Homo sapiens: one gene and its partner. The protein of the gene in region 1 purifies or fractionates together with the protein of each later gene. This does not show direct contact. Each region holds a gene or a part of one and is shown in the gene's direction. Other genes may lie near its edges. The genes, in order: RFWD3 and MBNL1.

Region 1 (4,024 bases):
CATAGATCCTATCTGTATTTAAAATTTTTTTTAAAAGAAAGAAAAAAAGCTCTATAGGTAGTCACTGTACAGATTATTTTAGTTTTCTTCCTTGTTTTTACTCATTTGGTCCAACCAATGCTCACTTGTAGCGTTTTTAAATAATGGAAGATGTGTACAGAGAGGAATTTTGTTGAAAAGGCAAAATCTATACGTGTGGCTGTAATGGGTGATTATATTTAAAAACAATTCACTGATTACAATAAGGAATTAGTATACTCTCCAGCCTCATTAGAAAAAGTGAAGAGTTTCAAAATGCCGATACAGACTAATAAAACGAACAGCCTTTTACCCAATTTTATCAAATCTTAATGTTTTGCCATATTGCTTTGAGCCTTTTTGAAAATAAATAGGCTGGGTGTAGTGGCTCATGCCTGTAATCCCAGCACTTTGGAAGGCCGAGGCAGGAGGATTGCTTGAGACCAGGAGTTTGAGAGCAGCATGGGCAACATTGTGAGACCTTGTTTCTAATAAAAATGAAAAAAATTATCCGTGTGTAGTGGTACACACCTGTAGTCTCAGCTACTCAGGAGAGAGGATTTCTTGAGCCCAGGAGGTTGTGGCTGCAGTGAGCTATGGTCATGCCACTGCACTCTAGCCTGGGTGACAGAGTAAGAACCTGTCTCAAAAAAATAAAGATAAATCTGTTGACCAGGTCAAGAAGGAAAAAAAGGAAAGAAAATTTTAAAGAAGAAGAAGTTAATTATAGATTCAGTAGAAGGGCCAGGCACAGTGGCTCACACCTGAAATCCTAGCACTCTGGGAGGCTGAGGCAGGCAGATCGCCTGAGCTCAGGAGTTTGAGACCAGCCTGAGCAGCATGGCAAAACCCCATCTTTACTAAAAATACAAAAAATTATCCGGATGTGGTGGTGCGTGCCTGTAATGCCAGCAACTCGGGAGGCTGAGGCACGAGAATCGCTTGAACCTGGGAGGCGGAGGTTACTGTAAGCTGAGATTGCGCCACTGCACTCCAGCCTGGGCAACAGAGCAAGACTCTGTGTCAAATTTAAAAAGGTACACTAGAAGTCTTCCTGTGAACTAAGTTCTTAATTCCATAGAGAACTACTTTCATGAATTAGGTGTTCAGCATTCCCAAGAGTTATTATGTATTTGATTAGCTATATATGTATTTGTAAATTATACATAGTATGATATAGAAAGTTTTGTTTTGGTTTTTGGTTTCTTTGGTTTTTTTTTTTTTTTTTTTTTTTTTTGGAGACGGAGTTTTGCTCTTGTTGCCCAGGCTGGATTGCAATGGTGCAATCTTGGCTCACTACAACTTCCCGCCTCCCAGGTTCAAGCAATTCTCCTGCCTCAGTCTCCCAAGTAGCCGGGATTACAGGCGCCTTTCACCATGCCCAGCTAATTTTTTTTGTATTTTTAGTAGAGACAGGGTTTCACCGTGTTGGCCAGGCTGGTCTGGAACTCCTGACCTCGTGATCAGCCTGCCTTGGACTCCCAAAGTGCTGAGATTACAGGCGTGAGGCACTGCACCCGGCCAGAAAGTTTTTATACTGTATGCAAATGTTATGTTAGATTATAACTTTTTCTTCTGTAGCTTGCTTTTTTGCTTAATTTTATGCTTTGGGAGTATATCCTAGTTGATACATGGGACTCTAGTTTTTTTCATTTCAATTTCTTGATAATATTCTAGTTCTCTAGTCAAAATTAATCTGTTTAGGCCAGGCGTGGTGGCTCACACCTATAATCCCAGCACTTTGAGGGGCTGAGGTGGGCGGATCATCTGAGGTCAGGAGTTGGAGACCAGCCTGGCCAACATGGTGAAACCCCATTTCTACTAAAAATACAAAAATTAGCCGGGCATGGTGGCACGCACCTGTAGTCCCAGCTACTCGGGAGACTGAGGCAGGAGGATAGCTTGAACCCAGGGGGCAGAGGTTGTGGTGAGCCGAGGTCGCACCATTGCACTCCTGCTTGGGCAACAATGGCGAAACTCTGTCTTCAAAAAAAAAAAAAATTATCTGTTTGTGTTTTACATTGGTAGACATTTAGGTTGTCTCCACTTGTTAATATTAGCCATGCTGCAGAGAGGTCTAGCAATGGAATTGCTTTATTATAGGGCACATTTAATTTCAGCTTTACCTAAATATTGTCAAATTACTTTTCTAACTTAAACTTTTCTTGTTTAAAAAAAAAGGAGAGATTTCTCATTTTTTCATACCTTTGTGAATTTTATTTATTTTGAGACAGAGTCTCGCTCTGTCGCCCAGGCTGGAGTGCAGTGGCGTGATCTCAGCTCACTACAACCTCCACCTCCCGGGTTTAAGTGATTCTCCTGCCTCAGCCTTACGAGTAGCTGAGACTACAGGCACCCGCCACCACGCCTGGCTAATTTTTTGTATTTTTAGTAGAGACGGGGTTTCACCATCTTGGCCAGGATGGTCTTGAACTCCTGACCTCGTGATCCACTCACCTCGGCCTCCCAGAGTGCTGGGATTACAGGCATGAGCCACTGCGCCTGGCCAAAAAATTTTTTTTAAAGACAGGGTCTTGCTCTATCACAAAGGCCAGAGTGCAGTGGCGCCATCAGATTCCTAGGCTCAAGCAGTCCTCCAACCTCAGCATCCTGAGTAGCTGGGAGTACAGGCGCATGCCACCACACCTGACTTATAATTTACTAAATAGTATATTTTTCTGTACAAATTTTCATTGCTACTTCTATCCTTAATTAAGTTTCCGGGCGGGCGCATTGGCTCACGCCTGTAATCCCAGCACTTTGGGAGGCTGAGGTGGGCGGATCACAAGGTCGGAAGTTCGAGACCAGCCTGACCAACATGATGAAACCGTGTCTCTACTAAGAATACAAAAATTAGCTGGGCGTGGTGGCACACACCTGTAATCCCAGCTACTCAGGATGCTGAGTCAGAAGAATCGCTTGAACTCGGGAGGAGGCGGAGGTTGCAGTGAGCCAAGATCACGCCACTGCACTCCAACCTGGGCAACAGAGCAAGACTGTTTCAAAAAAAAAAAAAAAAATTAAGTTTCCATGTATGAATGGGCTACAGTAGTCCCCCCTTAGCCACAAGGAATACATTTCAAGAGCCCCCAGTGAATGCCTGAAACCGTAGTATGTTTTTTCTTATACATACAAACCTAAAGGATAATTTATAAATTAGGAACAGTAAGAGATTAACAATAATAAATAATAAAATAGAGCAATTATACCAGTATACTATAGTAAGTTATGTGAGTGTGGTCTCCATCTCTCTCTCAACATATCTCGATATTTGTAGGTTGTGGTTGATCACAGATATCAGAAACCATGGAAAATGAAACTAGATAAGGAGACACTGTACTCTTTTGTTCCACAGTCTTTTTGTTAATTCTTTCTCACATATTCCAAGCTATAATTTATTGTAGCTTTAATATATGTTCCCCCATTTTGTTCTGCAAAAGTATTTTTTTGCTATTTTTGGCATTGTTCTTCATATTAATTTTTTAAAATTAATTTGTTAAGTTCCATGAAAAACACCTTTGGGATCTTGATTGAAATTGCATTAAAAATTATTATAGGGTAACTTGAGAAGTACCATCTTTGTGATAGTCTTTTCAGTCATGAACATTATGTAATATCCTTCCATTTGTTCACTGTTTTCTTGTGTCTTTCACAAGTGTATTTTGCTTCATAAAGATCCTGCCTAGCCTTTTACTTTACAGTCACGTGCTGCATAATGACCTTTGGGTCAATGACAGATTGCATATACGATGGTGGCCCCATAAGATTATAATGGAGCTGAAAATTCTGTTGCGTAAGTGATGTTGTAATCATTGAAATGGCTTAGCGCACTGGGTGTAGTAGCTCACACCTGTAATCCCAGCACTTTGGGAGGCTGAGGCAGGTGGATCACTTGAGGCCAGGAGTTTGAGACCAGCCTGGGCAACATGGTGAAACCCTGTCTCTACTAAAAATACAAAAATTAGCTGGGTGTGTTGGCAGGTGCCGGTCATCTCAGCTACTTGGG
Region 2 (4,300 bases), on another chromosome or scaffold:
AGTGTAGGGACTGTCTTATCCATTCTTGCATCACTGGCATAGTAGGCACTAAATGTAGTTGCTGAATGCTTAATAAGAGGAATGGAAGTCTTCGTAGCTTGGGGTAGATACTAATGGGCAGATAGAAAGTTCCCATCCCTGTTCTCTGAGAAAGTGTCAGTGTTCTTTTAGTTTGCTTAAACTGTGTGGGTACTTGAGTCCTTTTAAACGATTAACGCTGGGAAGAGGCACCATTTAATTAATTAATTTGTTCTGGAAGGGATCAGTGTACAATTTTAACTCAGTGCTTTGTGGATCTAGCTAAAGGTCAAGAACTAAAGTCGGCTATTAGTGCCTCTGGAAGATATTTCTGCACTTTAGCACCTTTCTGATGTTTTTCCTTCACCTCGAGCTGGCCTCACTCTCTTCAACAAAACCGAACCTGCAGGAAGAATGTTGTACCATATCCAGCATTTTTGTCCCAACAAACATGGGACAAACGTTTTTCACTAGAATCATCCTTGAACAAGTTATCCGAATTCCTTACATTCAAAGGAAATCCTGCCCCCAGTCTCCAAAACTTCATCACATCACAGACGTTCAGGATTCTTTCCATTCAAAGCAAAGCCAAGTTACATCTTATAGCACCCAGTGAATTATGATATGGGGCTGCGGTTTATTTGCTCTGGCGACAATATGGCTTACTTGCCGTGGAATATCCCGGTATTTCAGAAGTAACATATTATTTTTAAAGAGGGAGCTTTGCTTTCTCTAAATCACATGGTGCAAAGTTGGGAATACAGTGGCCTGTAAATTACAAATATTATTTACAAACTAGAAGGAAAGCTGACATGTGTTTGTGCCTGTGTGACAGTTTCACTAAGGAATTCCAAAACTGTGGATAGCCTGTTACTTGAGAAAAATACACGGTGGCAGTCTTGCAGATGTTTTTCCCGCCTGTTAGCCCTCCAGGTTCAAAAACTGTTTGGTGCATTTTAAGGCGGCAGTCTCACCAGATCGCAGGATTCTAGTCTAATTGGCTTCTAACCTTCAATCTAACCTTGCCGGCTTCCTTGCAAAGCCCGGTGCAAGGGCCTCTTTCAAAATGAACCCACTGGTGTGCCTAGCAGTCGGTAGAAGAAGCGGGAGGGCGTCCGGTCTGCACGCCCGCCGCGAGGTTACAATGCTGAACGCATGAGATGGAAGATACCAACGGGAGGCCGAGGGGATCCACGGCGCCCGCGCGGGCTCCGGCTTCCTCCTGCTCTCGGCGCCGCTGGGCGACCGCCCATGACCCGCTCTTGCGGGCTCTGTCCGGTTGACAGGCGACCCTGTGGCCCGGGGAAGCGCGGGAGGGCGCCGGCGGAAAGTTGAAGAGCGTTTTTCTCGCCGCCGCGTGCATTAGGAGCTCGACGAGTCCGCCCTGGGCTTCCTGGTGGGGCTGGGCGGGCGGGGGAGGGGCCGCGCAGCAGCAGCGGAAGCCAGACCTCGGCGATAAGAGGCTGCACAGCGACATGCAACAGTCTTTTCACTGCAGCTGAATGAGTTGTGGCGCCCACAATGCTCCCATGACAAGGAGCTGACAAGTTCCATTTTCCGTCGCGGGCATCTTGGAATCATGACTCCCACAATGCCTTGGGCACTTGGTCGACAGTGGGGCCGCCTCTGAAAAAAAAATGTGAGAGGTAAGTTTCCATTTTCACAGTTTCCCCGCGCCGCTTCATTGTTCGGACTCCGGCGGGTCTGCCCGTGGCTGAAGGAGGAAGTGCGAGGAGGTGCTCGCCGGCCGCGGTTCTCCCGGGCAGGGGCGGGCCGCTCGCGGTAGTTGGTTTCGCGTCCCTCAGCACCTCCTGCCCGGGGGAAGGCGGGAGGGTGAGCCGCAGCCGCTCCTGCGCCCTTCCCTGCCGCGGGCTCTGCGGACGCTGTCACGGCACAGCCCGCGCACGGCTTGGCAGCCCAGCGGGACCCAGGGAGAAACAGGGGGGCGAGAAGAGAAACAGGTGCGTGCAAGTGTACTCACAACTTAATGACCTTTGTCGGGGGAAGGTGTGAGTCCCTCTGAGTCGAGCGGCGCGCGGGTCTTCCCGGCGGCTCCCGCATCCCTGGCCCCGGGGCTGCCATCCCGCCCGGTTTTCATCTGGGCCAAATATGTGCACGCAAAGGTTAATTCTCTGCTTGCTACCCATAAATTACGCATGACATGTTTAGCTGGGCTGCCTTATATGGAGAGTGCTGTATTTCAGGCCAGTTTGCCTTTTGCCAAGTTTACAGGGCGGAAGACGCCCTGTAGGAGAGGGCTGCCTCCTCCTTTTCTTCTTCTTCTTTTTTTTTTCATCGTTTTGTAGTGCGTCACTCAAAAACTGTAAGAAAAGTAAGTATAGAAGCTCTTTGGGTGGAGCCGCAGTTGGTTGAATTGCTTTCATGAAAGGTTGAAAAGAATGAAAAGTAGTTAGTACTTGGGTTCTGGTTTTTAGACAAAAGCAGGACAAATATGTAGCCACCCCCCAACTTTTTTTTTTTTTTTTAAACGGAGCCGGAATCTGTTATTGGTAGTAATGTGTCATGTGAGAATACTTTGATTCCAGAGCCTGTAACACGAGCAGGTATATGGTGGCGCTTATGCCTTCCCCTCGCACAGCACTTTACAACTACAGGGGTGTTGCTGCCAGAGTAATATTGTATTCTTAAGGCTCTCTGGGGCCGGGAGAGTATGCGGCTGTTGGGATTCTGGGGTGTATTTCCGTGGAGTATGTCTCCCCAGGATTAAAGTTAAGAAGCTGCCGGAAAGGTTGTTGCCGCTGACTTCACTTTGTGTGCCCACCAGCACAGGCACAAGTCATAGCAGATGGATGGCAAACTCTGCCATATACTCTGAGGAGTTTCTTAAATTAATACGCTAGGAGAGAAGTCATAATTAATGCTTTTAGACTTTCGAGCCCTCTGCAGCGTGCTTTGAAATACTACACCGGTGGACACTATGTCCCTTCCTCCTGGGTTTGAACACAGTGTCTGTTTATACACAGAGGGTGTTTAGTACCTAAGTATTCTATACCAGCACAAGAGAGCCACTCCACAGTTATCTCTCTGTGTGGATTCCTAAGTGTGTTGGTGTTTCTCCTTGCTGTTGAGATAAAATATTATCACCCAGAGAGAAAATGAAAGTTCAACGACTGTAAAATTTATCCCAGGAATGTGCAGTTCAATACTTAGAATGTCTTAGATGTAGTTATAGATAGAGGCACTGAATAAGTTATTTTGTAGCCTGAGAATGCACATCGCTGTCACTTGTATCTTGCTTTCTTAAAGTTGGTGACAACTAAGGCTAAACTTCTTTAGAAAACCTAATGTTCTAGTTTTTATCTGTTTTGTGTATTTGCATGGGAGTTACTTTATTATTATTATTATATTGTTAGGTCTTCTTTGAAAATGTAGGCATAGCTTTTTTAGTCTTATTTGTTTAATGGGGGGTTTCCTTGCTGAAGACTACAAAAGTTGCCTTTTGTGTTTTAAGGAACAGGTTGGGTCAGCAACAGAAAACCTGTTCATCTATAATTATAGTGTCACTTAAGACATAATAATCAGATTTCATTATTACTAAGAGACTCAGAAAAACCTCACATATGCCTAGTTTAATTTTTTTCCTTATGTAACTGTGAACAAATTTGTGTGTAGATACACATCAAGTGTGGTACTCTGCGCAGTCATGCCAAAGAGAAACTGAAGTGTTATATGGTTTGAGATATTATTGCTTGTGTTTACATTTCCACATTTGAGGCAAAGTTAGACTCCAAGTTGAATTCATTAAATTTTGATTCCAACATTCTGTTCTTCCTTTGGGCACAGAATTCCTATGAAATGAAACACTGGGTTTTGTTCCAGAACAAGAACAGACTAACCCAAAATTTCTCCTGGGGGAAAAAAAAAGAGTAAAATTATATTTCTCATTGAAAATTGTATTTCTCATTGAGGAAGGGTGTGTTACTTTATTATATAAAATGCCTTATCTTCATTATAAGAAAAAAATGCCCTTGCATTTGTCACTGTTGCCATACATTAGGCCTGTATTTGATAGATCTATATGGAAACAGAGAATAAATAATCTTGCTGCACCTTCTGGCTTTCTGCTTGGTGATAGATGTGCGGATTAGAGAACATCTCAGGTCTTGGTTAGGAGAAGCTGAAAAGAATAGGTGATTGGGTTTTTAAAATTCTGTATGCAAAGGCATTAGGGTGGGTAGTAGATATGAGAGTCAAAAGAGTGGAGGAAAGAAGTGAAATAGGTTCACGAAGTGATTGGCCCAAAATAAAATCCCATCAACCA

What was found.
Region 2: the proteins of RFWD3 (region 1) and MBNL1 purify together in Homo sapiens (affinity purification with mass spectrometry, with the first as the bait; one large-scale study listed by BioGRID). This does not show direct contact.

Annotation. Positions count from the first base shown.
Region 1 is NC_000016.10:74,639,160-74,643,183, reverse strand, and holds part of RFWD3 (E3 ubiquitin-protein ligase RFWD3), read left to right. Parts: intron 1-4,024. UniProt on the Homo sapiens protein: E3 ubiquitin-protein ligase required for the repair of DNA interstrand cross-links (ICL) in response to DNA damage. Plays a key role in RPA-mediated DNA damage signaling and repair.
Region 2 is NC_000003.12:152,267,429-152,271,728, forward strand, and holds the start of MBNL1 (muscleblind-like protein 1), read left to right. Parts: upstream 1-1,500; 5' UTR 1,501-1,664; exon of another isoform or gene 1,665-2,350; intron 2,351-4,300. UniProt on the Homo sapiens protein: Mediates pre-mRNA alternative splicing regulation. Acts either as activator or repressor of splicing on specific pre-mRNA targets. Inhibits cardiac troponin-T (TNNT2) pre-mRNA exon inclusion but induces insulin receptor (IR) pre-mRNA exon inclusion in muscle.